4 linked regions of the Homo sapiens genome follow. The protein of the gene in region 2 interacts with the protein of the main gene of each other region in a pairwise test. Each region holds a gene or a part of one and is shown on either strand. Other genes may lie near its edges. The genes, in order: SGMS2, GPX8, DNAJC30 and SMAGP.

Evidence for each region.
Region 1: the proteins of GPX8 (region 2) and SGMS2 interact in binary tests that used the Homo sapiens proteins (3 or more experiments, as listed by UniProt).
Region 3: the proteins of GPX8 (region 2) and DNAJC30 interact in binary tests that used the Homo sapiens proteins (3 or more experiments, as listed by UniProt).
Region 4: the proteins of GPX8 (region 2) and SMAGP interact in binary tests that used the Homo sapiens proteins (3 or more experiments, as listed by UniProt).

What each region holds. Positions count from the first base shown.
Region 1 is NC_000004.12:107,820,685-107,827,952, forward strand, and holds the start of SGMS2 (phosphatidylcholine:ceramide cholinephosphotransferase 2), read left to right. Parts: upstream 1-4,247; 5' UTR 4,248-4,569; intron 4,570-4,987; exon of another isoform or gene 4,988-5,125; intron 5,126-7,268. UniProt on the Homo sapiens protein: Sphingomyelin synthase that primarily contributes to sphingomyelin synthesis and homeostasis at the plasma membrane.
Region 2 is NC_000005.10:55,155,215-55,163,170, forward strand, and holds the start of GPX8 (probable glutathione peroxidase 8), read left to right. Parts: upstream 1-4,956; 5' UTR 4,957-4,978; coding exon 4,979-5,182; intron 5,183-5,776; coding exon of another isoform or gene 5,777-5,779; coding exon 5,780-6,041; intron 6,042-7,956.
Region 3 is NC_000007.14:73,680,422-73,687,278, reverse strand, and holds DNAJC30 (dnaJ homolog subfamily C member 30, mitochondrial precursor), read left to right. Parts: upstream 1-3,825; 5' UTR 3,826-3,855; coding exon 3,856-4,536; 3' UTR 4,537-6,361; downstream 6,362-6,857. Other genes in the region: BUD23 (18S rRNA (guanine-N(7))-methyltransferase), read right to left, coding at 184-280, 379-461, 548-643, 3,378-3,512, 3,606-3,625. UniProt on the Homo sapiens protein: Mitochondrial protein enriched in neurons that acts as a regulator of mitochondrial respiration. Associates with the ATP synthase complex and facilitates ATP synthesis.
Region 4 is NC_000012.12:51,246,398-51,253,429, reverse strand, and holds part of SMAGP (small cell adhesion glycoprotein), read left to right. Parts: intron 1-6,598; coding exon 6,599-6,679; intron 6,680-6,712; exon of another isoform or gene 6,713-7,032. UniProt on the Homo sapiens protein: May play a role in epithelial cell-cell contacts. May play a role in tumor invasiveness and metastasis formation.

The sequences.
Region 1 (7,268 bases), on a different chromosome or scaffold from region 2:
AATATAGAAGTCATCTTTGGCTTCATCCTCATATCCCAACTGATCTGCAAATCCTGCAATAAACATCCTCATGCAAAATTAAAAAAAGAAAAACCTTTCAATTCCTGAGACATATGTTCGTTTAGAAGGTAACATGGTGATTCTTTTTCTTTTTCTTTTTTATTTTCTTTTGAGACAGAGTCTCGCTCTGTTGCCTAGGCTGGAGTGCAGTGAAAGGATCTTAGCTCATTGCAAACTCCCCCTCCCAGGGTCCAGCGATTTTCATGCCTCAGCCTCCTGAGTAGCTGGGATTACAGGCATGTGCTACCATGCCTGGCTAATTTTTTGTATTTTTAGTATAGACGGGGTTTCACTATGTTGGCCAGGTTGGTCTTGAACTCCTGGCCTGACGTGATCTGCCTGCCTTGGCCTCCCAAAGTGCTAGGATTATAGCCATGAGCCACTGTGCCCGGACCATGGAGATTCTTAGATAAACAGCCATGGGCACAAAGTAGGAATTCAATACAAATTTGTGGGTTGAGCAAATGACTTTAGATATGTTCAGATTCGAGTTACTGTAAGAGGAAATAAGTACTATAGATCTACATGTTTTCCTAAATCAGTATGTTTTATCAAATCAAAGAAATACCTGTAAAACTTGATTTATGCTGCCTTGGAGAAAACAATGGACAAGAACACACTTATCTATCATCCATTTCTCTCCCTTGAAACACTCAGTGCCATTATTTTTGAAAGGTGATGAATTGCAAATTTTGTCACTTTTCATACATGGTAAGAACAAAAGGTGCAGTTAAAAAACAAAAAAAAAATCATCTTTCTGTGAAAAGGATGTTACTATTTCTTAAAACATAGAAATTAAGATGAGTAATTTGCTTTCTCATATGTTGATAATGAATAGATTGAAAAAACTTCGTATCATCCATTATCAATTATATTATTTAATATATGTACTTGGGGATATTTAAATGGTATAATAAAATGACCTAATTACTTATTTCACAATATTTAAACTGAGGCACAATAGTAACCACTAATTCAAAACTACCCATTCAACAGCCTTCCACACAGAGGCTTATGAGGGAACTACAGGGTTTATATCAGCCAACAGTGCAGGCAGAACTGCAAGCTTTGTTTGGAGCTTTTTGACTTTATCCATGTACACAGGCCAAAAAGCCCACAATATCAATTGAGATCTGTAGAAAATTGTATTTAGACTTATCCCATAATGTCCAAATATTTGGATCATGAAGTAGGGAGTAGGTGGGATATTCACGCAAACTTACTTATAGATGGCTATACATTTGAATCTAGTCATTCAGTGTTACCAATGGATAGGACACCCATGCTTCTGAATTAGCTCTGTGATTGTCTATAAAAACTGCTGATTTGAATTTTGACTGCATCCTAGCAAACCAATCCATTTGCTATTGCCTTCTGGGCAAAATGCCTGGGCTTTGTAAATTTGAAAATGAGCTCCTTATTGAAGGGGAAAAATAAACCCCAGGACAATAACTTTCGATTGGTGGTCTCCTCTGGGTTCTAACCTTTAAAAGTAGCTCTAAAAGAGTCCATTTTCCACAACAATGATGTTGAGCCCTTGGTTAATTTTAGGAGCATTTTCATTTGGGGGAAACTTCTGTATTGTGACAACATCTTTTTTTGGTTTTATATTTTAAAAATTTGGGGGGACCGGGCACAGTGGCTCATGTCTGTAAATCCCAGCACTTTGCGAGGCCGAGAAGGGTGGATCGCAAGGTCAAGAGTTCGAGAACAGCCTGACTAACATGTTGAGACCCTGTCTCTGCTAAAAATACAAAAATTAGCCAGGGTTGGTGGCACACACCTGTAATCCCAGCTACTCGGGAGGCTGAGGCAGGAGAATTGCTTGAACCCAGGAGGTGGAGGTTGCAGTGAGCTGAGATTAAGCCACTGCACTCCAGCCCAGGCGACAGAGCAAGACTCCATCTCAAAAAAATTTTTTTAAATTTAATTTTTGTAGGTACATAGTAGGTATATTTATGGGGTACACACAATATTTTGATATAGGCACATAATGCATAATAATCACATCAGAGTAAATGGGATATCTACCATCTCAAACATTTATCCTTTCTTTATGTTACAAACCAATTATATTCTTAGTTATTTTAAAATGCACAATTACTGTTGCCTGTAGTTGCCCTGTTTTGCTATCAAATACTATACCTTATTCATTCTATCTAACTATATATATATTTTTTACCCATTACCCATCCCCCCTACCCTTCCCAGCCTCTGGTAACCATCATTCTACTGTCTCCATGAGTTCAATTGTTTTAAATGTTAGCTCCCATGAATAAGTGAGAACATGTGAAATTTGTCTTTCTGTGCCTGGCTTATTTCACTTAACATAATGACCTCTAGTTCCATCTATGTTGTTGCAAATGCCAGGATCTCATTCTTTGTTATGGCTGAATAGTACTCCATGGGTATATGTAACGATTTATCCATTCATCTGTTGATGGACACTTAGGTTGCTTCCAAACCTTGGCTATTGTGAGTAGTGCTGCAATAAACATAGGAGTGCAGGTATCTCTTTGATACACTGATTTCCTTTTTTGGGCATATATACCTAGCAGTGAGATTGCTAGGTCATACGGTATCTCTATTTTTAGTTTTATGAGGAACTTCCATACTGTTCTCCATAGTGGTTATACTTTTTACATTCCCACAAACACAAGGGTTCCTTTTTTTTTCCACAACCTCGCCAGTATTTATTGCCTGAGCACCTTTTCATATACCTGTTTGCTATTTGTATGTCTTCTTTTGAGAAATGTCTATTCAAATCTTTTGCCCATTTATTACTCGGACTATTAGATTTTTTTTTCCTATAGAGTTGTTGGAGCTCCTCATATATTCTGGTTATTAATCCCTTGTCAGATGGATAGTTCCCATTCTGTGGGTTGTCTCTTCAGTTTGTTTCCTTTGCTGTGCAGAAGCTTTTTAGCTTAATATGATCCCATTTGTCCATTTTCTTTGGTTGCCTGTACTGTGACGACATCTTGAAGTTGCGAGTTTGGGGATTGCCTGCCTTGTATATTCTTTTCTGTTACCATCATCTTTAATAGCCACAAATGACTGTTGACCCACATGATATCTGCACTAGAAACCCAAAGATTCCCGTCATTATTTTTGTTGATTATATGGAAGCACCCATAAACCAGCGCAAATCCTAAACATAATTATCTTGTCCAGAAGGAGACATTAATGTAAAACTTATGTCAAGAAAGATTTAGCCACATTCCCTCGGATTGGTCATTCCTAGTTAGAGTCCTTGAGGCTGCCATCGTTTACTTTGAAAACTGCCCAGCAGGTGTATGAATAGCAACTCCAGGACAATGTAGAACCATTACCATTTTAAAGACAGCAATCCCCCTTTTAAAAAACTACTGAGGCCTTCGAAGAAACCACACGGCTGCCTTGGGCCCCAAAAGCTGCGGAAAAGCGCAGTATTCAGTTAAGCAAATAACTACTTACACTGTTTATTTTGGTTACGATTCCTTAAGTGAGAAGTAAATCAATTAACAGGACAAATGACACGATGGTTAGGCACGAAAGGGACAGTGCTGCCACCTCATTAGCTTGGAGCAACCTTCCAGCTCATACCATGCGGACTGATGACTAACCTTGCCAGGCAACGCTGTGAGGTTTGGAAACCCACCTCTTTGACCTAGGCCCGGTCAACACCGATAAACCCTCTGAATCAACGCTGGCGCTCCCAAGCCCACTCACACGCCGTCAGGAAGCAGTTTCCGAAACAGGCCGGGTGCGGGGGTGGGGGATCCCGTTCCAGCCCCACCCCTGAAAGTTGCTGGGAGTGGCACCCAAAGAACTTTCCCAGATTGATCTCTGTTGCCGCTCAGGGAGGTCAGCTCCAGGCCCTCAGCCTTTCGGCCGGGAGCCAAACTGCCCTGCCTGCCAAGCCCCTCCTTCTCTGCACCTTAAACAGCCGCGAGGGGAGAGTCGGCTGGGATTTTCTTCTTAAGAAGTCGCGCAGGTTTTTCGAGCTCCACTCTGCGCCAGGAGAGCCACGGCAGCAGGAACGGGCACTGCTGCCACCGGGCCGACGGGTGAGTCACTGTTTGGAAATGGAGTGGGCGGGCGAGGGTGTGAGAGAATGAATGATGTCAAGAGCGCGCTGGGCGCAGGGCGCAGGGAGCGGGCCGCGCGCGGCGGGCGGGGAGAGCGGGCGCGGGGCCGCGGTCAACACTGAGCGCCGCGCCGTGGGCCGAGTGGGGCGGGGAGACCCAGCCCTCGGCGCGCACGGAGCCTGGCCGGTGCTGCAGCGCCGCCGAGTGCGGCCTCGGGGGCGGCGGCCGCGGGAGGGACCCGGAGAGCTGCTTCCCCTAGTCAGGCCGCGGCGTGGGAGGGCGAGACCCCGAGCAAACTTTCTAGCGGCTTCGGCCCGAGGGTGGTGACGCCCGGGGCTGGTCGCGGCGGCTGCGGCAGCGGGCTCCATCCCCTGGCAAATCCCCTTCCCGGGAGCAAGTGCCTTCAGCTGGGAGTGTCTGGAGCCCTGGCCACCAGCGGGTAAGGAGCGCGCGGAGGGGCCAGGAGGAGGATGGGCTGGGGAGCGGAGAGTCCTCCGAAGCGCGGGAGGGGAAAGGTGGATTGCGAAGCGGGGACGTGGCTCTAATCCGGCCCCCACCCTCCCCGCCCAGGGCATGCTTCCTCGATTTTGTGGTCTGGAGGAGAGATGTGTGCCTTAGTCTCCTTCCTCTGAGCAGTCATCTCATTCATTTGCAACCCATTTCGGGTACCCCGGTCCTGGCGTTGGAAGGGCACAGGTTAAACCCCAGATTGTCCAGAACCACTCCGGAGGTCAGGGCTGAAGTTCAGTTGGTGGAGGAGGGACTGTGTGTGTGTGTTTGTGTGTGTGGTTTTTCTTTTCTTTCTCTTTTTTTTTTTTTTTTTTTTTGAGAGGCACTTACTGATGATGTGTGAACAGTAACAGCCCAGCTCTGGGCAGCCCACACCGAAACCCTTCAACGTGTGGCATTCCAGAGCTGCTCCCTTTACGGAAGGGAAGACTTGGTTTCTCAGCGAAAATAAGGGGCGGGGAACCCCTGTCAACATCCATCCAGAGGTATGGATAATCATTAATTATCCACGGCTTGAAACCAACTCAAAATGTTATGTCCTGTAGTCTTTTTTATTTATTAATGTTGCCGGTCCTCTATTTCAAGTCTTGCCTGCTCTGAAATGACCTTAAAATCATTTTGACATGTGTGTTATATTTTGAAGAGATTCAACTGTTTAGTGTCACTGGATTCGGCGTGGGTTTTCAATCTGTACCTAACTTTTCAAATCCTTGGTTTCATTACCAGTCTCCTCTATTAACGGTGGGTGCTCAGGCACATTAAACATTCTGAACCAGTAAAATGGGATTATAGCTACTTCAGATAATAAGGTGGATTAAATAAGGATTAATAATGAGGATAATAATGAGGATTAAAGCGCAAAAGACTTCTCATAATGTCTGGTACAAAGCAGACCCCAACAAATTATAGCTGTTTATATATAAATAATAGTGTGTTGCAGCTGGCTTAGGTAATAACCAATTAATTTCCACAGAATGTCCTCCTTATAAGCCTGGTGGGCCGAGGGTTAGCATGTGAAATCCTTTGGCAAGTTCCTTAGATTGGGAAGTGATGTTTTCAGCAAGTTAAACATTTTTAGTACGGATACCTGAGAAGGTTATGGTTTCCATCCTGTGTCATGGGAACTGCCATTTACTGTTTAAACAATGTCAGAGCAATGGCTGAAAGTGACAACCTGGAATTTACAGGAAGAAAGGACGTGAGGAAGCTAACTTTACCTTTACCTTTTTTTTTTCCTAAAGAAGCAGTGCAAGCAGTGCAAAATTTCCTCTTTATGGCCCTTTCCTTGGTCTTCTAATGTTCTTACTTCACAATAGTCTGGTTGAAGTGTTTTTTTTTTTAACAAGTTAATGTTTAATTTGGTTCCTTTGGTTTCATTTTTAAGTAAAGCTAGTTGACTTGTGAACCTAGAGGGAAACACTTGGACACCTTGAGGTGGCTGCACCTTGTTCTGAGTTTCTCCCCTCGCAGAATCTCATAAAAGCCCTAGGAAATGTTTGGAAGAAACTTTAGCACTTGTGCACGTTATTGAAGACATTTGCTCTTACCATAACTATAACAACTTACAGGGTGAAAGATCTGGGAGCTGTCCTACGACAGTACCGTGTAGTGAGATCATGGACATGGGAATCCAGGAGACCTGAGGCTCTCTGAGCTGTGTTCCTTTGAGCAAGTTTACTTAAACTCTTTGGGATTTTTGTGGGACTTTAAACAAAATATAGGGGAAAAATAGAAATAATCTTAGAACTATTAAAATAGACAATGGAGTATCAGTGAGAACTTTTTTTAAAAGTGATGCTTTGAGGTGAGATGTTTCTTTTTTAAAGGAATAATTACTGAGAGTTTTGGACAGTTTTAGACTAAACAATGACTTACCCACCTTTAGCGTGTTGTCTCAATGGAGAAATTGAAGGCTTTGTCTTGAACTACTAGTATCAGATATTTATTTGCTTAACGTTTAGTATGCAACAACTACATAACAGCCACTGTGCTAGGGGCCAGCAATGCAAACGAAGGAGATAGTTGCTACCCCAAAGCTTATAGTCCAGTAGAGACCTCAGGCTGTGATTATCAAGAGGGGAAAAAAGGAGTCAAAAAAGGAGAGTGCTGGGGACTTGGGAAGAGACAAGAAGTGATTAGGCCGTCATAGGCTGCCTCCCACTGATAATAAGAGATCTGGTGGCATTCTGAATGGTCTTGAATAGGGGCTCGTAAATTCTTTATGAGGCCGAATAATAAAAGTATGCCTTGCTTTACACAGTAAAATATTACGGACAAGTGATAGCTCTTCAGTTTAAATAATTTTAAATATTCAAAGCAAGCTTGTTTAAATGAAATCTGAAGGGTCAGCTCAGCTCAACTGAGATATATTTGCTGTGTGGCTGGGTGCAGTGGCTCACACCTGTAATTCCAGCACTTTGGGAGGCCGAGGCAGGCAGATCACTTGACGTCAGAAGTTCAAGAGCAGCCTGGCCAATATGGTAAAACTCCATCTCTACTAAAAATAGAAAAATTAGCCGGGCATGTTGGTGCTCGCCTGTAGTCCCAGATACTCGGGAGGCTGACGCAGGAGAATCGCTTGAACCTGGGAGGTGGAGGTTGCAGTGAGCTGAGATTGCGTCACTGCAC
Region 2 (7,956 bases):
ACCAGTGCCAAAAATAATTAGAAAAGGACCCAGAGGGGTTAAAAATAAGGTCAGGAAGTAGCAGAATGAAACAACTGAGAAAATAGAAACAAATATGTCTACTGACAAATAATTTGACACACAAATATCCAGTGGGTTGGAAAAACCTAGACATCCCAGAAAAGACCTGCTGGCGATGCTAGTCTTGCTAGAACCTCAAGAGAAAGATAAAAGTAGCAAAGACAGCCCAGGTAGCTCTGAAGCATACCCCAACCCCGTTCCTTAACCTCTGAGTGTGTGCCGCTCCCACCCACCACCAGCCCAATGCAGCAGCATTCTGTCCACAAGATGTTTCAAATGTAGGGTCTCAATACTATTTCAAATTAGTCATGAAGACCAAAATGTTCATCGTCTCATGTTTGAACTTTCAACGCCCTCCCATCCTAGTAGGCAATATGACCCACACACTGTCAAGGTCATTTTCAGGTAAACATCATCCTTTATCTCTATCGCCAGCAGCTGCCCGCAGGGTCTACAGAGCATCTTTAGCACCCACCCCCTTCCTTCCATCATGCTGGCCAAGGCTACCTTCACTAAGACTCTTCGCCTATCATCTGGACCTGCTGCTCTGCAGACCTCCCGTGGCCCCTTCCAGATAACTTCAGTACACACAGAAAAGCCTTTTGGTGGTGTTCTCCATGCCTTCCCCTTTCTGGGCGCTTATACAGTGATTTCTTATAAAACAAAATGCCTCCTCACGAATGAAACCCCTTGTATTAGTCTGTTCTCATGCTGCTAATAAAGACATACCTGAGGCTGGGTAATTTATAAAGGAAAGAGATTTAATGGACTCACAGTTCCACATGGCTAGGGAGTCCTCACAATCATGGCAGAAGGTGAATGAGGAGCAAAGGCATGTCTTACATGGCAGCAGGCAAAAGCTTGTGCTGAAGAACTCCCATTTATAAAACCATCAGATCTCGTGAGACTTATTCACTACCACAAGAACAGTATAGGGGTAACTACCCCCATGATTTAGTTATCTCCATCTGGCCCCACCCTTCATATGTGGGGATTATTACAATTCAAGGTGAGATTTGGGTGGGGACACAGCCAAACCATATGACCCCTCCACCAGAGTACTACAGCCATCTCACCTACAATGTTTTCTTCTAAATAAATTTATTCACCTATTACACAGAAACAGTTTCATGAAGTTGAAATAATTTTGGTTATGAAGTCGAAAGTTCAAAACTCTATTCTTCATTGTTCCATTCACTAATTCTGTGATCTTGGCTGAGTTAACTGCTCCCTATTTCAAAGAATTACTGTGAAGAAGGTAATGTGTCTACTAAAGAAGATTGTGTGCAGTATAAAGCTCTCTAAAAACATAAGTCACTGGCCAGGCATGGTGGCTCATGCCTGTAATCCCAGCACTTTGTGAGGCCGAGGCGGGCAGCTCACGAGATCAGGAGTTCATGACCAGCCTGACTAATATGGTGAAACCCCATCACTACTAAAAATACAAAAATTAGCCGGGCATTTTGGCGCGTGCCTGTAGTCCCAGCTACTCGGGAGGCTGAGGCCGGAGAATCACTCAAACCCAAGAGATGGAGGTTGCAGTGAGCCGAGGTTGCACCACTGCACTCCAGTCTAGCCGACAGAGTGAGATTCTGTCTCAAAAAATAATAATAATAAATAAAAAAATAAGTCATTTATTTAGCACTCAGTTATTTACTGCCTTGTAATCCTTCCGTTTCTTGTGTGTTCTCATATTTCCAAAATTGCTTTTACAGTTGCATGAGGCTGGCTCCTTCCCTTGCACCTTATTTGTATCCTTTCCAGTGCTTGAGTTGGTTGATAACTGAGTCAACTACTTTATGCCCTTCTTGACCCAGTAGCTTCCTCTTGCCTTCATCATGAACTCATCAATCTCTTCTCCTCCTATAGAAGCCTTCCTTCATTTACTGAAAGAGCGCTGGTGGTTTTTCTAACATACTACCCCTTATGCAGAGAAATGTGCCATTTTGATATATGTATAGTCTGAGAATAGAGTTAGTATAGACAGAACATGAAAACAATAATGGTGGATCCCCAGAAGGCTGAGAGATGATGACATCAAAATGTGTGCAGAGAAAGACTGCCAAAACAACAAAGAAGAGGTGTGACAGGGCCAAAATCTGTGTTCATCCAATGCTGTCCAGCGCACAAGTTCTCCAAAGTGCTGTCTGAATGTTTGGTTAATGGGTCAGTATGAAAATTTATATATCATGCCTTCATTATTTGAAGCTCTTAAGCCTTAGGAACATTAAATTAACAAACTGGCTCTGATTTCATCCTTGACAGGAGATATACACGTAAGTTTTCAAAGTTGTATTCATATAATATGGAATTTTGTGGTGAAACCAACCTCAACATCAGGCCTGCATAATGTTTTATTTCTGGTGTAAAAACTGGCTTATTCAGCAATCACAAGCAAGTTTGTAACAGCATAATTTTGGCATTTTCAAATCCATTCATCTCTGGATCACTTGATAAGAGTTTCTGTACTTATAATACAATGGACTAGAAACTATCACAGTGATTTTATCAAAATAATATCACCCTAGGGGGCCCTGCCTAAGCGGTGGTCAGTCAACATCCCTGCCAAAGATAAATCACTCTCTTTCCACCTCAAAACACAGTTATAATGACTTGGGTTTACACGGCTCAAATTACAGCAGGTATTCTATGAATTAATTTTAAAATGCATGTTCCTAAGCCATTTGCTTGTACAGCCTGAGGAGTTAAAATATCTCGTGTATTCATAGAGACATGAACACATCCACTATGGAAAACAAAGACAAACCAAAGACTCTTGTTGCTCTGAAACCAAAAAAAGTTTGAGGTCTAAAGGTTCTCAAACTTAAACGTGTGTATGTGTCATGAGGAGATCCTGTAAAAGTACAGATTCTGACTCGGGAAGTCTGGGGTGGGGCCCAAAATGCTGTGTTTCTAACAAATGCCCAGGTGATGGTACTGTGGAAGGTCCCAGATCCCACTTAGAGAGCAAGGCCAGAGAGCTTAAGCAACATAGCAGTGTTCATGTCATATAAACACAGGGACTTTGACTTTTTAAACAATTCAGCCAGAGAACACCAAAGTAAAATTATCAGGAAGTGATACAACACATCTTACATACATTTTTGTTCTTTACTAGGAATTATGTTTAAAAGGGAATACTTTCTGCATAATCATTGCTTTTTCTACTGTATCCATTCTTACTGAGCCATGAGAGTAGGAGTCGAGCGGTTCCTCTCACAAGTTTTACACAGTAGGCTATGGGCTTTGCTCAGCCACCCGAAAACACACATGCCACAGAGCGGGAACCAGAAGAGCAGGCAGCACCCTGAGCACCCTCTCTGAAGCTCCACAAGCTAACAGTGACAGGAAGGGCACTCCACAAACATCTCAGCTCATTCCCTGCACTTTCTGGAAACACATCATGATCAAATGGCATAATGCCCCTTCATCCAGATCTTGCCATGAGTCTTAAACAGAGCAGAATTGAAAGTGAATGGCTTTTAGGATATACAGCCCTCAATTGCCTCCCCATACCTACCCCTAAAATTCATGACCGTTAGCAACAGCAAAGTTAGGCCCCCTGTGCCAGGCAACAGCCAGGGGAGGGAAATAAAGAGAAAAAACGAAGCAATTAGATGACGTGCCCAAGTAGAGGTGGGTTTTGCAGGGTTTGTTTGTTTTCAGGGATTTTTTTTGGTAGAATTGCCTTATTTAACTGTTAAATTACTACTTTATTATCGAGTTCAATTTTTGCTTTTTTCCCTCTTCTTCTTTTGTTCTGATTTTAAGATAGTCTCACTCTGTCACCCAGGCTGCAGTCTACAAACACGACTCACTGCAGCCTCAACCTCCTGGGATCAAGCGATCCTCCCACCTTTGCCACCTGTATAACTGGGACCACAGCCATGCACCACCACAACCAGCTAATTAAAATTCTTTTTTAGAGACAGGGGTATCGCTTTCTTGCCCAAGTTGGTCTTGAACTCATGGGCTCAAGTGATCCTCCCATCTAGGCCTCCCAAAGTGCTGGGATTACAGGCGTGAGCCACCATGCCCGGCCTCAGTTTTTTCCATCTACAGGTTGTAGTGCATCGGTGAATGATGAAATCATTTTGATAGGTCAGAACTGGGTTGTTTAAAAATGCAACAGGTGGGGGTGCATCACAGTTCAAAGGAGAAGTGTTGTTTCTCAGTTGTGTGTTGTTTGTACCCAGTTATGTTGTAAAGTGCACTGCTGACTGGGGGTCATGAGTAGAAATTTGAAAAACACTGGACTATAGTTTGCTCTATGATAGAGAAGGGTTTCTTTTAACACCTTCACTGTTTTTAACATATTTATTTTGACTGTATTCACTTGGTATTTGATTGCCTTAGCTAGATGAATCAGGGTAAATAGCCTTTTTCAGATATTTCCCTGCTCTTTCCACTATAAATTTCCTGAACTCATATAGCATGTTTAACCCATACATGTAATAGTAACGTCCTTCAGGGTATACACCATATGAGTAGGTCACATTTAATCTACATTCTAAACTATTGCTGAGCATCGTACTCCATCCTCTGCATCCAAACAGTTGCTCAATAAATACACAGCTTAGCATGGGGAATGAGCCCTCCGTAGCTTTCGAGTTACAAGAGCACCATCTTCTGGCGAAATATTTTCTTTGTAGGGAGAATGTCAAAGACCTACCAAAAATGTCCTGATTTTTCTAGCAAAAATTATAATTACATCACAAATACTTTGAAATTCTGTAGAGCTCCTTGCTTCATTCAGGAGTTTCGCTTCATTTCCCCTCTGAGAAGTGGTCTTTCTGTTCCTTAGCAGTGAAAGCAGTCAGCCTGTCCTTCCTGGTTTTCCGTTAAACTAAGCCGGTTTCAAGTTTCAGCTCCTCCTTGAATTCCAGGCTGCTGAGACTTCCCTCTAGAATCCTCCAACATGGAGCCTCTTGCAGCTTACCCGCTAAAATGTTCCGGGCCCAGAGCAAAGGTATTTGCAGTTTTGCTGTCTATAGTTCTATGCACAGTAACGCTATTTCTTCTACAACTAAAATTCCTCAAACCTAAAATCAACAGCTTTTATGCCTTTGAAGTGAAGGATGCAAAAGGAAGAACTGTTTCTCTGGAAAAGTATAAAGGCAAAGTAAGTTGCATCATCTGATTTTTATTGTTATCATTTTTCCTTGTCTCTGTTTATTCCTCTTAATAAAATCAATTTTTTGCTGTTACATGGTCATAAGTTGGAATTTAGTCTTCAGAGTAATGGTATTAGTACATCACTTTAGTTATTACAGTTCTGATAGTTTGCTTCTAAATAATAAATTCCGATTATCTCGTTTTCTTTAAAATGCTTTAATTTTGTGCTGAATTGACATGTAAAGTTGTTTGGAAAATACTTATAGTTAGTAATGTGAACATGATGACATTTATTAATAAAAGTATTGGTTCTATAATCTAATAACTTTAAAAAGAACTTATCAAGGATCATAGTTTTATCTTTAATTTAAAAATAAACTTTCATGAGTATCTAATGCTTTTTTAATGGCAGTACTATTTCAGGGCCTTAACCCAGGCATCTAGGTTACAGTTTTCAATAGAACTGTGTATGTCCAAAAATATGAAAAAAACATCAATCAGAGGTTATAGTCCCCCCCAAATTGTTTAGGATTTTAACTACTTGCAGAATTTTTTAAAATCTTTTGCTTCACTTTCCGGTTGGATTTTTTTCTTTTTCCGGGAGGTTTCACTAGTTGTAAACGTGGCCAGTGACTGCCAACTCACAGACAGAAATTACTTAGGGCTGAAGGAACTGCACAAAGAGTTTGGACCATCCCACTTCAGCGTGTTGGCTTTTCCCTGCAATCAGTTTGGAGAATCGGAGCCCCGCCCAAGCAAGGAAGTAGAATCTTTTGCAAGAAAAAACTACGGAGTAACTTTCCCCATCTTCCACAAGATTAAGATTCTAGGATCTGAAGGAGAACCTGCATTTAGATTTCTTGTTGGTAAATATCTGCCTTGCATATGCTGTTTTAAATTGCTTTTCATTTTTAAACAATTATACCAGGACAATACTTTCCTATTTCATTTGAAACGTTGTATCGGGAAAGCTTCATAAAACTATCATCAAAGAGCCAGAATCTCATCCTTTGTAACTTCTAGGAGTTATGCTCCCCTGAAATCAATGTTTTAGCTTCTTAGATGGTAAAAGAATTCTATTCCAATATATTTTATTCCTTATTACCATCTTCCTGAAGAATTTACTTAAAGTGTGCCCATGGCTATTTTCACAAAATATCTTAATTCTCCTCTCTTGTAACTAGCATCTGGAGAAATGTCCCTTCCCGTCATTATAGCCACACAGCTCTCATGAATAGTGCTGGGCATTATTAGTTAACATATGTTTGTGGCTAATTTTATGTTGTCTTTCTTATCTGAAACAATATTCTCAAAGATGAATATGTCAGCTTACCAGATTTTTGCTAAAATCCAAAAACATATAACTTGGTTTTTTCAGAGGGCAGTAGTGTTAGGCTATTTCTCCAATTAAGCTAGCTACAGAAATCTGTTTAAAGACTTGCCAAGGTCACTTAGCACAAAGGTCATGAGGCATACAGACAGCATAGGCTTTGGCCTCAAGCTACCTGGGTTCAAACCCCTGCTCTTTTGTTTTTGCTATGTGGCTTCTTAACTTCTCTGTGCCTGTTTCTCATTTGTAAAATGGGCTATCAATAGTACCGCCTTCTTAAGATTGTTTGGAATTAAGTCTGTTAATAGTAAAAATAAAGTACTTATACACTGCTTGCTCTGTGCCAGACACTGTTCTAAACCATATTAGTCAAAAAAAAAAAAAAAAAAAAAAAGGCCGGGCGCGGTGGCTCACGCCTGTAATCCCAGCACTTTAGGAGGCCGAGGCAGGCAGATCACTTAAGGTCAGGAGTTAGAGACTAGCCTGGCCAATATGGTGAAACCCCATCTCTATTAATAGTACAAAAATTAGCCAGGTGTGGTGGTGGGCACCTGTAATCCCAGCTATTCAGGAGGCTGAGGCAGGAGAATCGCTTGAACCCAGAGGCAGAGGTTGCAGTGAGCTGAAATCGCGCTACTGCACTCCAGCCTGGGCGACAGAGCAAGCCTGCATCTTAAATAAATAAATAAAGGACATTAGCTAATGTTCTCTCATCTAACTTATTCTGATGACATCTTCAGTCCTATTTTCACTGTAAATAAGTTGAGTTTTGATCAAACTATTACCTCACTCAGGCAATCAAGCTTCTAATCCAACAAACCAAATAGTGATCTATAATATTTCACATAAATGTGAAGTCAGAATCTTCTAAAAACATTATATTTAATTTCTAGGGAAAGTTGATATAATGCCTAACGCCATAAATGGCAACCACAGTGAGGTCTTTATTCCTCTTATTTTGAAGGTCCACTGAGGAAAGAAAAGCCCAAGCACATGCCATTGAACTAATCATTCTTCAGTTACAGCAGCCAGATACGTGGGTGCAATAGCTCATAGGTTATTTCTCTTTATCACTACAAACCTTCTAAAACCCTTCTTAGCCTGTGTAATCAAAAAGGTAACAGTGAGTTAAGGTGTCATTCCACTTAGATAGGAAGGATCATAGAGCCCAAAGGTTAAGAGCATGAGCTCTGGAGTAAAAGGCCCGTATATCAATCCTGGCTCAACCACTCATTAGCCACGTGACCTTGTGTCTAGGCTTCCATTTATCTCATCTGCAAAACGGGGATGATAATAATACCCACCTCATAGGGTCCCTGTAAGATTAAAAGAGAGGATCAATTTGAAGCACGGAGCGTACATTAATCTGGCACATAGTAAGCACTTCATAAATTTTAGTTATAATTATTATATTTTTCCTCATGTTAGTCAATAAAATGAACATAAATCTT
Region 3 (6,857 bases), on a different chromosome or scaffold from region 2:
GCTAGGTACGGTGGTGTGGGCCTGTAGTCCCAGCTACTCAGGAGACTGAGGTGGGCAGATCACCTGAACCCAGGAGGTGGAGGCTGCAGTGTGAGCCATAATCACAGACACTGCACTAGAGCCTAAGTGATAGAGTGAGACCCTGTCTCTAAATAAATAAAAGCAGGAATTAAAGACCCTCACCTGATGCAACCATCAAATGTGCCTGGCTTGAATGGGATGCCCTGGCCCATATCCCCCAGCAGCAGGTCTCCCTCTATCTCTCGGTCCACAGCCTCATCTACATTAGAGAAAAGGCAGTCAGAGAAAGAGAAATACCTGTGGCTTCTCCACACCCATCAGGGTAATCCACCCTGGTGCCAGACAGGACATACTTACCCAGCATGGCAGGGCTGATATCCAGGCCCACCCAATAGTGCCCTTCATCTGACAGATAACTTCCACTCAGCCCAGTGCCACAGCTGGAAGACATGACCAGACACTCAGGGTCAGTTTACAAAGACACTTCACCACCTTAGACAATCTGAACCAGGCCCCAGAATCTCACCCAATATCCAGCAGGTAACAGGGCTTATTCTCTGGCAGATAAAGAAGCTCCAATGCTCGCCCAGCCATCCTGGTCTGGATATCAATCATCCGTGAGCTGGTAAGGCAGAAACACAAGTGGACATGGTAAAGGAGTTCTGGGTGAATACTTCCCCCAGACCAAAAAACAAAAAACAAAAAAAAGCCAAGTTAAAAACAAACAAAAAACGGATCAATCATCCCGAGGTACTCTTTTCTGACCCCTTCTAAGTTGGGATCAACAAATTCAACCATTCGAAAGTGACCCCAAAAATTCCATGTAATTCAGGACCATGTTATTTTGTGGTAACAACTTATCATTGCACCAGCTGCCAAGCAGATGTGTAAAAGCAAATCACTTAGCTAGTAATAAACAACCACTGGGATCTGCAACTCTATTAGGCTGGGCTGCTCTAGCACTTGTTGAAAACATTTTCTCCAAAAATTATTCTCCATAGTTTCTCTCATCTAGAAGGATCAACAATGCACAAAAACCTACAGCAGCACTGTCTGTGAGAAACAGAATGTGAGCCACGCATGGCTTCCCAATAGCCAGTCAAGAAGAAACTTAAAGAAACAGGTAAAAGAAACTGGAGTCATATTTTTTTTTTTTTTTGAGACGGAGTCTTGCTCTGTTGTCGCCCAGGCTGGAGTGCAGTGGCGCGATCTCGGCTCACTGCAAGCTCCGCCTCCCGGGTTAATGCCATTCTCCTGCCTCAGCTTCCCCAGCAGCTGGGACTACAGGCGCCCGCCGCCACGCCCGGCTAATTTTTTTTTTTGCATTTTCAGTAGAGACGGGGTTTCACCATGTTAGCCAGGATTTCTCTATCTCCTGACCTTGTGATCCGCCAGCCTCGGCCTCCCAAAGTGCTGGGATTACAGGCGTGAGCCACCGCGCCCGGCCTCTGGAGTCATATTTTTAACCCCATATATTTAATAACGTATTTCCATTAACTCAATATGTTCAAAATATCACTTCAACATATAATCGACATAAAAAGTCATCAGCAAGGACCGGGCCTGGTGGCTCACGCCTATAATCCCAGTACTTTGGGAGGCCAAGGCGGGTGGATCCCGTGAGCAACTTACCAGATCCCTGGGCAACATAGCAAAACTCCCTCTCCACAAAAAAATTACACAAACTAGTCGGGCGCGAGGAGGCGCGCCTGTAGTTCCAACTACCCGGGAGGCGAGGTTGCAGCCACTGCAGCACTTCGGCCTGGGCGATAGAATGAGAGCCTGTCTCACACGCACAAAAAATTATCAAGCTATTTCAGCCGGTGTGGTGGCGAGTGCCTCTAGTTCCGGCTGCTGGGGAGGATGGCTTGAGGCTGCAGTCGGCAGGGATCATGCCATGGCACTCCAGCCTGGGCAATAGAGAGACCCTGTCCCTAAAAAAAAGAAACAGTATCCAATAGCTATTTATTTATTTATTGAGTCAGGGTCTCACTCTGTCGCCAAGGCTGGAGTGCAGTGGTGCGATCGCAGCTCACTGCAACCTCTGCCTCTCAGGTTCAAGTGATTCTCCTGCCTCAGCCTCCCGTAGGCCCGGCTAATATCTGTATTTTCAGTAGAGACGGGATTTCACCATGCTGGCCAGGTTGGTCTCGGAATTCCTGACCTCAGGTGATCCGTCCACCTCCGCCTCCCACAGGGCTGGGATTACTGGTATGAGCCATAGCGCCCGGCCAGTAACCATTTACTGAAATAGGGCTAGTCTCTCAGTGAGAGAGCACGGAAAAACCACAAAGTATCTTTTTTTTTTTTTTTTTTTTTTTTTTTTTTTTTTTTGAAACAAAGTCTTGCTCTGTCGCCCAGGCTGGAGTGCAGTGCCGTGATGTCGGCTCACTGCAACCTCCCCCTCCCGGGTTCAAGCTATTCTCCTGCCTCAGCCTCCCGAGTAGCTGGGGTTACAGAAACCCGCCATCGCGCCCGGCTAATTTTTTCCATTTTTAGTAGAGCTGGAGTTTCGCCATGTTGGCCAGGCTGGTCTCGAACTCCTGACCTCAGGTGATCCGTCTGCCTCAGCCTCCCAAAGTGTTGCGATTACAGGCGTGAGACACCGCGCCAGCTTCCCCCCGCCCCCATCCCCCCCCCTTTTTTTTTTTTTTAACGACTCGAGGTGCGCTGGCTCACGCCTGCAATCCCAACAGTTCGGGAGACGAAGGCGGGAGGATCGCTTGAGCCCTGGGCTTGGGCCACCTTGGGCAACACAGCGAGACCCCATCGCAACAAAAATTTACAAAAAAAAGCCAGGCGTAGTGGCGCGCGCCTGTGGTCCCAACTACTGGAGAGGCAGAGGGGAGCCACCACACCCGGCTAATTTTTTTATTACTTGCGGAGACGGGGGCTCGCTACGTTGCCCAGGCTGGTCTCGAACCCCTGAGCTCAAGCGATCCTCCCGCCTCAGCCTCCCAAAGTGCTGCGATTGCTGAGATTACACGCGTGAGCCACTCCCACCTGGCTACAACTCAGTAGTTATACAAACTACCCTCTATGAAATTCAGACAATAATACACCAACTGCTGTCTTGGAGATTTATTGGCAACAAGGCGCCACGATAAGCATCCTACGGCCATTACTTCCTTCCCCCCACCAGGACTGACCCCTCGCCCGTACCCACCGCCCAGCGCCTCTTTTACCACATGTTTAGGACAAATTGTCACATTCGACTTTGAAAACCACCCACGGAAAGCAAGCGCGATCACCCCTACCTCAACGCTGAGGTACCGAGGCCCAGAGAGGTCGGCAACTTAAAGTTGATTTACCAGAGACAGAAATCGGCACCCACCCGGGTCCTTCCCTTCCCGCACCCCCAAATTCTACGGCCTTTCCGGGCAACGCCAGCAACAGGGGCAACTTGCCGCTTCCCGACCCCCGGACGCCCCGCAGTATTCAGGCTCCCCTCACTTGCGAACGTATTTCCGGGCTTCTGTCTCGTCATAAAACTGCGAAAAAGAGAAAATGGCATGTAGAGGAATAATTCAGACGCGGTGGCCGCAGAAGTGGGGAGAGGGGTGTCCGCGGGCCCCGGGACTTACCAGCTCTGGGGGTCCGCCATGCTCCGGACGCCGGCCGCGGGACGCCATTCTCACGCCTCAGCAGCACACCTGCGACTGGCGCCTGCCGGCACCCGGTTTTTATGTCATCAGCCCGGCGACCGCTTAGTAATACGCATGTTCCACCCCCACGACCGCCCCGCCCCCCCCTTTACGTGACTGGCCACAGGGCGACCAACCGACTCCTCTCATTGGCCGGTTTCTCTTGCACCGCCTGCCGAATCAATTCAACATGGCAGCCATGCGCTGGCGATGGTGGCAGCGGCTGTTACCTTGGAGGTTGCTGCAGGCCCGTGGCTTTCCACAAAATTCTGCACCCAGCCTGGGCCTAGGAGCGAGGACTTATTCCCAGGGCGACTGCTCGTATTCGCGCACGGCGCTGTATGATCTGCTCGGCGTCCCCTCCACAGCCACGCAGGCCCAAATCAAGGCGGCTTACTACCGTCAGTGCTTTCTCTACCACCCGGACCGCAACTCCGGGAGCGCGGAGGCCGCCGAGCGCTTCACGCGCATCTCCCAGGCCTACGTGGTGCTGGGCAGTGCCACCCTCCGTCGCAAGTATGATCGCGGCCTACTCAGCGACGAGGACCTGCGCGGACCTGGCGTCCGGCCCTCCAGGACGCCCGCACCCGACCCCGGCTCGCCGCGTACCCCGCCGCCCACCTCTCGGACCCACGACGGTTCTCGGGCCTCCCCCGGCGCCAACCGCACGATGTTCAACTTTGACGCCTTCTACCAGGCCCACTACGGGGAACAACTGGAGCGGGAACGGCGCCTGAGGGCCCGGCGGGAGGCCCTTCGCAAACGGCAGGAGTATCGGTCCATGAAAGGCCTCCGCTGGGAGGATACCCGAGACACGGCTGCCATTTTCCTCATCTTTTCAATCTTCATCATCATCGGCTTTTATATTTAATCGGAGAGAGAAGGGAAGGGGAGTGTCCCCAGCCAACCCCCCAGAAACGGCCTTTTTTCCTGCCTCTGAACCCTTGGCCATTGATAGTCTACCTTTGCTGGGATCCGAAGGAACTGTACTCCCCCTGCCCTCCCCGACCCGCCCAGCTTAGCCGATGACCTGCACATCGCTCCACTGTGGTCCAGAAAAGGAGGCCTTTCGATGTCTGAGAAAGAGGCCCCACGCTGTAGAGTCCCGAAAGCCCAGGAGTGAAGGGGGTTCCTGGAGTCTCTAGGGTGCTTCTTCCAGAGTCTGTCTTCTTGCTTCCAGATGTGGTCAACTTCTGGAACACTCGCTGTAGCTTTATTGTTTAGCCCCAAGCAAGATTTATCTCCTCCTGCCCCGCATGTGTATGGTGGGCCTCTGTAACCTTGAAATGTGCAATGTGACCAATTGTTGACTACCAAAAGAAAAGGTCTGGGGTTGTACGAAACTTGTCTTTCTGTGACTTCCCCAAGCCGCAGGTGAGACCTGGTCCAGGGTAAGAATGGGATCGGTGGAGAGCCTGTCGTTCCTCCCGCTAAGGTCAGCCCCCTGGGGCACTCCTCCTTATGTTGATAGCATGTAGGAGTGAGAAAAAGTCATTGAGCATAAGGAATGAGTGTTCCTGTGCCCATATTTAATGTGTGACCTTGGAGAAGTTACTCTGTAGGCATGACAGCAGAGGAGAAAATCATTTGGCATCTTGAGGTCTGTCATGCTTTATTATCCATAGTTTTTGGGGGGTTTTTTGTTTTGTTTTGTTTTTGAGATGGAGTCTTGCGCTCTGTTGCCCAGGCTGGAGTGCAGTGGTGCGATCTTAGCTCACTGCAACCTCCACCTCCCGGGTTCAAGCGATTCTCCTGCCTCAGCCTCCTGTGTAACTGGGATTACAGGCTCCCACCACACCTGGCTAGTGTTTTGTATTTTTAGTAGATACGGGGTTTCACCATGCTGGCCAGACTGAGGTCTCGAACTGCCGACCTCAGGCTGTCTGCCCGTCCAGCCTCCCAAAGTGCTGGGATTGCAGGCATGAGCCACTGCTCCCGGCCCTATTATCCATAGTTCTAATCCACAGGGATTACAGCATAATGCTAGCAGGGCCAGGTTCATCCTTGAGACAGTGTGGCTGGCTGTCACCTGGTCCTCCCTTTACCAGCCAGCCCCATTGCACACTGTGCAGCCCATCCCCTCCCAGAAATAGAGTGACAAACTCTGCACTTAAGTCCCCTGTTTCTGTTTAACTTGCAGTGCTTATCACAGGCCCTTCCTTAATTTTTTAAACAAGGCTGCTTGAGGCTGGGGTAAATTTTGGGGCTTTGGGAGTACACAGGACTACTGAGGGACGGGGAGTTGGTGGCTTGGTGTTCATGGTGGAGACTTGGTTCTTTACGCAGAGCAGGCTAAAGGCGTGTTTTTTCTGCTCTGTTTCTAATTCATGTTAAGTAGTTGGTCATCACTTTGGTCAGAGCTGCTGCTGAAGCTCTCTTAACTGTGAGTCACTGGACGTTGGCAGGGAGTTGGCTGTGAGATTGTAGGTGCTCAAGTGTTTCTGTTCGGGACTGAGTGTGAATCTGTAAAAGGGGAAAATCCTCGCAAGAGGTCTACGAGAAGGATGAGGGCCCAAGTCTAGGGTCTAAACAAAGCCAGGAGTGGTTTGGTATATTACTGAGTGCAATCATTGCGTGCCATTCCTGCACTCAATGTATTGTGTAAAATCCTTAGGTAAAATGGGATAAACCCACAGCTGGTCCTACTTGGCCTCTTGAAAACCATTCCATCATTGTGCCAATCTAGCCTGAAAAGGAAAAAAAAAAAGGGAAACCATTGATTGTCTCTTGCCTCGGAGGTTGGGGGTATGCCCCTACTCCAGGCTTTGCAGTGATCATATGATGCAGTAATGAAGATCTGGGGCCTGGCACAACACTTTGGGATCCACCCAAGGCGGGTGGATCACTTGACCTCAGGAGTTGGAGACCAGCCTGGGCAACACGGCAAAACCCCATCTCTACAAAAATCACAAAAATTAGCCGGGTGTGGCAAGTGCCTGTAGTCCCAGCTACTCAGGAGGCTAAGGTGGGAGAATCGCTTGAGCCTGAGAGGTCGTGGTTGCAGTGAGCTGCGATCCTGCCACTGCATTCCAGCCTGGGCTACAAAGCTAGACCCTATCTCAAAAAAAAAAAAAAAGAAAAAGAAAAAAAAGATTTGAGCCCAATCTGGTTCAGACCTGTTTGGCTCAGTGAGCCTGGACTTGGGGGAAGGGGATATGTACTTTTTAAAAGAACATTTATTGTTACTATGTT
Region 4 (7,032 bases), on a different chromosome or scaffold from region 2:
TACCTAGAAGTGGGATTGCGGGATCATACCCACCCAGCAATGAGATTGCTGGGTAATTCTGTTTAATCCTGGCAGGAACTTTAAAGGTAAGGGTTTTTGCCTGTGTTGTTCACTGATAGAAGCCCAGAGCCTGGCACAGAGTACACACTCAGTAAATTCTTGTTGAACTAACTGTTTAATTTCCCTGTCTAGGAACCTGGAATCTCAGTCTAAGAAGGCTGTGCAGCTTATCTGACCCAGCTTGCTCTCAGTAGTCCCATTCTGACTTCTAATGCTTGCTGTTTCGAGTTCAAAGCCCCCCAAACAGGCCGTAATAGTGTGTTCTAGAACTTTGCTGGGGAGTCACATCAAGCTCACCATTGCTTTATGGACTCCACCTTCCTTCCATGGCCCCTTCAGGTTCCCGACCCCTTTCTCTTTCTCAGAAGCTCCTATGTCACCAACAGAAATCCCATTTACAAGTTCTTGCAGTGCCTTTGGCTGTCATATCTGGTCCCTTTTAGATTAGTCTGGTGCTTGCTGGGTTTCTTTGCTTCTCTTGAGCTCACTTCCCCCATGTCCCCAAAGGCTCCACTGCTCCTTAGTGCAAAAAAATGATTCTCTTTGATAGGAAACAGAGGTGAAAAGGCCTGAGGGAATTCTGCTTTCTCTGTTACCTCCAACCTGACCCCTCAGGCCCAAAGAAGCCTAGCTTTTTCTTTGTTCTTGTTGCAAATATAATGCTTTTTAAATTGTCCTTCGGGGGGCGATGTGGCTCACGCCTGTAATCCCAACACTTTGGGAGGCTGAGGAGGGCGGATCACCTGAGGTCAGGAGTCTGAGACCAGCCTGGCCAACATGGCAAAACTGTCTCTACTAAAAAATACAAAAATTAGCCGGGTGTGGTGGCACATGCCTGTAATTCCAGCTACTTGGGAGGCTGAGGCAGGAGAATTGCTTGAACCCAGGGGGCGGAGGTTGCAGTGAGCCGAGATGAAGCCACTGCACTCCAGCCTGGGTGACACAGTGAGACTTGGCCTCAAAAATAATAATAATAGGCCGGGCACAGTGGCTCATACCTGTAATCCCAGCACTTTGGGAGGCCGAGGCGGGCAGATCACGAGGTCAGGAGATCAAGACCATCCTGGCTAATATGGTGAAACCCCGTCTCTACTAAAAAATACAAAAAATTAGCCGGGCGTGGTGACATGCGCCTGTAGTCCCAGCTACTCGGGAGGCTGAGGCAGGAGAATCGCTAGAACCTGGGAGACAGAGGTTGCAGTGAGCCAACATCGCGCCACTGCACTCCAGCCTGGGTGACAGAGCGAGACTCTGTCTGGAAAAAAAAAAAAAAATCTGATGTAGAGTCTGCCTTCTTGTCATCGTTTAAATATTGAGGTAAATTTCTTTGCACCTTTCTTCATCTGCACTTTCTGCTTCACCAGATGGCTTCATATAAGTGGAAACTGACCAATAGCTGCATCGCAGCAAGGCATTCTGTAGAATTTTTTTCTTAAGGTCTTCCTGTATGGCTAAAATATTCTCTAGTTGTGAGAAAGCTTGCTTCTGATCATGTTAAACATTAAAGCTAAAGAGGGTGGGGAGTCCTCTGAACCTCTTTTGGTTCTAGGGGCTGCTCAATTTAAAAAAATTAAAGAATAGATAACTGAAAATAAACTAAAAATAAAGAAGTCACATATAAACCAACATGACTTCTGCATTACACTGACATCGTTCCCTTAAGTTACCTATCACCAGTGAGCCAGTTCATGTTAAAGAAGCACTTTGTAGCACAACTGTCTGTATTTAATTGTGATCATCTGGTTTCCTCCCACCTTTATTCTTTTTTTTTTTTTTTCTGAAACAGGGTCTCACTCTGTCACCCAGACTAGAGTACAGTGGCACAATCACAGCTCACTGCAGCCTGGACCTCCTGGGCTCCAGTGATCCTCTCACCTCAAGTTTACCGAGTAGCTGGGACTACAGGTGTGTGCCACCATGTCTGGCTAACTTTTTTTTTTTTTTTTTTTTTGTAGAGATGGGAGTCTGGCTATGTTGCCCAGGCTGGTCTCCAACTCCTGGGCTCAAGCGATCCACCTGCCTTGGCCTCCCAAGGTGCTGGAATTACAGGCGTGAGCCACTGCACCCAGCCTCCTCCATATATTATTTTTAAAAAACAAATAGAGATGGTGTCTTGCTATATTGTCCAGATTAGTCTCAAACTCCTGGCCTCAAGCAATCCTCCTGCCTCCGCCTCCCAAAGTGTTGGGATTACAGGCGTGAGCTACCACACTAAACCTAATGTACAAAGTAAGTTACTGTTGATGATTGAACACAAATTACTCATCTTCAAGCTTCTGATATACATTAATCTTCTCAATGCTTTGTACATCCTAAATTCTCAAAATGTTTAAAGAAAGCAAAACTAGGAACAACTGTATAGAACTCTAGATCCATGGTAGGAAGATGGATTGCAGCCCTGGGCGATTTGGGGAGGAAAGTGCATGGTGAAATGTGTGAAGTCATGACCAGGTAGATAAACTTCAGGGCTTCCCTTTGATGGGAGTCACAGTGTTGTATAACCTAATCTCAGAAGTTACATGCCATCATTTTTGCCATCATCTGTTAAAAGCAAGTCACCAGGTTCAACCCATATACCAGAGGAGAGGCATGCTCAAAGATGTCAATACCAGGAGGCAGAAATCATTGTGAGCCATCTTAGAAGCTGTACACCACACTCCCATTTCACAAATCAAGAAACTGAGGTACTGCCAGGTGTGGTGGCACACGCTTATAATCCCAGCATTTTGGGAGGCCAAGGCAGGAAGATTGCTTGAGGTCAGGAGGTTGAGGCCGCAGTGAGCCAAGATTGCACCATTGCACTCCAGCCTGAGCAACATAGTGAGATCCTTGTCTCAACAACAACAACAAAAAAAAAACAAAAAAAAAACACAACAACAACAACAACCAGGTTCAGAGAGGTTTAGTAACTTCCTCAAGGTCACCTAGTAATATGCTTAGGCAGGATTCAAACCCAGAGCAACTCTCCCTTTAATTAATTTATTTTTTTGAGACAGGGTCTCATTACTCTGTTGCCCAACAATTCAGTAATGCAGTGCTGGCTCATTGCAGGCTTAACCCCCTGGGCTCAAGCAATCTTCCCACTTCAGCCTCATGAGTATCTGGGACTACAGGCGCATATTACCACACCTGGCTAATTTTTACATTTTTTTTTTTTTTTTTTTTGTAGACAGAGTCTTACTGTGTTGCCCAGGCTGGTCTCAAACTCCTGGCCTCAAGCGATCTTCCCACCTTGGTCTCCCAAAGTGCTGGGATTACAGGCATGAGCCACCATGCCTGGCCCTTTTAATCACTAAGCATATTAACAAAGTCACCTTAAATAATATTTAAGTAGTAGCTACTATATGATGTTTACATGTTCTCTCATTTAATCTTCATAATAGAACTGCAATGTTGGTTAATATAGTTCCTGTGGGTAACAGATGAGAATGGATGAATGAATCCATATGTATAGGCGAGGCACAGTGGCTCACACCTGTAATCCCAGCACTTTGGGAGGCCGAGGCAGGTGGATCACTCGAGGCCAGGAGTTCGAGACCAGCCTGGCCAACATGGTGAAACCCTGTCTCTACTGAAAATACAAAAATTAACTGGGCATGGTGGCACACACCTGTAATCCCAGCTACTCAGGAGGCTGAGGCAGAAGAATCGCTTGAGCCAGGAGGTGGAAGTTGCAGTGAGCCGAGATTGCGCCACTGCACTCCAGCCTGGGCAATGGAGCAAGACTCCATCTTAAAAAAAAAAAATGTATAACTGTTCTAGACAAACTCTAAAACCATTTTTCCTCAGCTCTCACAACAGTTGACACAGAAGACTTCTGTGACCCCAAAATATTTGAGAATTTCTCTGCACCAGCAAGCAAGCAAGCAGTTCCACAGCAGACACCAAGAGGGTGTCTTCCAATTCAATTCTGACACTATCTACCTAGAGATAGTGTCAGATACCACAGGCCAAGGTCTGGGCCCCCAAGGCTGCAGCTCCCTTCAGACACTAGTCACAAGTCCAGGCTCCAAAACTTGTGACCAACCAGCTTCAAGTTGGAGTTCCCACCCCTGCCAACCCCTGCTTTGGAGTTCAATTAATTTGCTGGAGTAGCTCACAGAACTCAGGGAAACAATGTGTTTACTGGTTTATTATAAAGGACATTGCAAAGGATACAAATGAGGACATGTGTAGGGTGAGGTGTGGGGAGGGGGGCGGAGCTTCCACGCCCTCCCTGGTGCGTCACCCTCCGGGAACTTCTGCATGTTCAGCTAGTTGTTTTTGGGGTTTTGTTTTTGTTTTTGTTTTTGGATGGGGTCTCATTCTATCCCCCAGGTTGGAGTTCAGTGGCGCGATCTCAGCTCACTGCGACCTCCACCTCCTGGGCTCAAGCGATTCTCATTCCTCAGCCTCCCAAGTAGCTGGGATTACAGGTGCACACCACCATACTTGGCTATTTTTTTTTTTTTTTTTTTTTTTTTTTTTTTGTGGTATTTTTGGTAGAGACAGGATTTCGCCATGTTTCCCAGGCTGGTCTCAAATTCCTGGGCTCAGGAAATCACCCACCCTGGCCTCCCAAAGGGCTGGGATTACAGGCATGAGCCACCATGTCCAGCCATGTTCAACTATGCGGAAGCTTTCTGAGGCCAGTCCTCTTGGGTTTTTAATGGAAGCTTCATGATGTCAGCATTCCCTTCCCAAATTCTCCCTCTGGAATGAGGATCTTATGACCCACTATGGGAAAGGCAGAGGAAGATTAGAGTCCTGCCTTGGGGCAGGTGAAGGGAAGGGCAGGAGAAGGCTGGAGAGATGCTGTTTCCTGAGGCCCGCTCCTGCGGTGTGACACACCCACATCATAACACAAGGCTAACGGGCTGTGGGAATTAGGAGCCAGGAACTGGATGAAAACCTAGAGAGAGAGAGAGAGAGAGAGAGAGAGAGAGAGAGAGAGAGTGTGTGTGTGTGTGTGTGTGTGTGTGTGTGTGTGTAAAACACCACAGTAACCATTCGCCCAAGGCCAGAGTGGTTGAGGGTACTACCATTCCTAGACAAAGAGGGGACCAGAGAGAAAGGTTTGGCCTGGCCTTGGGAGAGGAAGCGCTCTGGACAGCCTGCCTCTGCTTTCTGTATTGCAAGATGAGGATGGTTCATCAGGCTCCCCTGGGCCCGCGTGGAAAGACCCTTCAACACTCTTGGCCCCTCTTAGCATAGGCCCACCAGACCACCACTGATACCCTCATTTCACTTGCTGTGGATGGAAACCTGAACGTGTCAGGCACTGGACGGGAGTCATGCTCACACCGCGCTCGGGCCACGCTGGCCTTTGAGTCCCCTGGTCTCAGAGCTTTGACCCAGGCTCTTCTCTCTGCCTAGAATGTGCCCCATCCCTGTTACCCGGTAAACTCTTACCCCTGCTTCAGCTCCCAGGTCAGATATTCCTCCCTTGGGGGGTCGCTTCTGGCTGGAAGACTAGATCAGGCCCCTCGGCTGCACACTTTCCTAAGTGCACTTACAGCAGCTCCTCACCGTGCAAGCTGTGGGGTGCAGTGGAGGGTGAGCCTCGGGAAGCTGGCCGTGTCTGTTTTGCTCGACCTTTCATCTAGCACAGGGCCTAGCAAAGAGGAGGCAGTGGGTGAGTGTTGCTGTTTATGGGATGCCAGTCAGGTCGGGGTGCCTCCTGTGGGTGTTGCCAGGATCAGCCAGCTGGTTTTCCCCAGGAGACCTCTATCCTGCAGTAACCTCTACATTAAAATGCTAATAGGAAAGAATGGAAGGGCTTCCTGACTTCCTGTGTAAACACTTAAAAGGGACTTCTGGAGACCACTCATTTTGTCATGTTCTGTCCCTGGGTAATGACTTTAGGGTGGGACTTTCACGCTCTGAAGGATAAATAAACCCGTAGCAGGAGGGGGTGCAGGATCTATTTTAGGGTAGAGGAGAGGCCTGTTTCAGAACCTTTCAAATTGCAGGGCCTATCCTGGAAGTGTAGAAAAGGGTTTTTAATAGGAGAGGAGCACTATTTCATTATGTTAAAATAATGTTTACAAAGAATTAGTAAGAATGCTGCAAGAAAATGCACATGCTATATAATATAATGTAAATATATACACATACAACTCATTTGATCTCACTTATTGTAAAAATATGCATTCCTAATAATGGCTTATCCTACTGAGTGACTTATTAAATGTCACAACAACGTTTTAAAGTAGGTACTCTTACCTCCATTTTGCAGATAGAGGTTAGGTAATTTTCCCAAGGTCACACAGCTAGTAAAGGACAGAGTTCATATTTGAAACCCAGTCTGTCAGGCTCTATAGCCCCTACTCTTAATCACTATATTATGCAGGGAGAAATCCATCAACATATTGTCTTTGGGTGGTGGTTTATTTTCTTCTTTATTCTCTAGGATTTTCTATTTGGATATACTCTAGGAGTTAAATGATAAACTTTTGAATAGGGAAGAAGGTGGGGTGGTGAAATTTGAAGGCCAAACATATGCTTTCAAACAAAAGAATTCACTCCATTTCCTTTTCCACTTTTCTACATTTTCCAGAAGAACTGATGACCACCCCAATTTTACAGCCCACTGAGGCCCTGTCCCCAGAAGATGGAGCCAGCACAGCACTCATTGCAGGTAATAGACTCTGAGCCAACTCCAAGGGACCTTCTGGATCAAGGGCATCTCTCTCCAGAGGGAGCCTGACCAAATCCATTAATGGGCTCACTCTGGCTTGTAAGTTATATTACACACACACACACACACACACACACACACACACAGCCATAAAAGACTCGGAGGCTTCTGTCAGAGGCACTACCAGTAAATGACAGGTTGGGAGGTGGCCGCAAATAGATATGCATACGGACGTTACACTTGAGTACGTGGGTAGGGACGAGGATATATGTGGTTGGTTGAGTGGGTGAGGAAGAGGGGGAGGATCAGATAAACCACTTCCTGTTAGGATAAGCCATTTCCTGTTCCCTCCT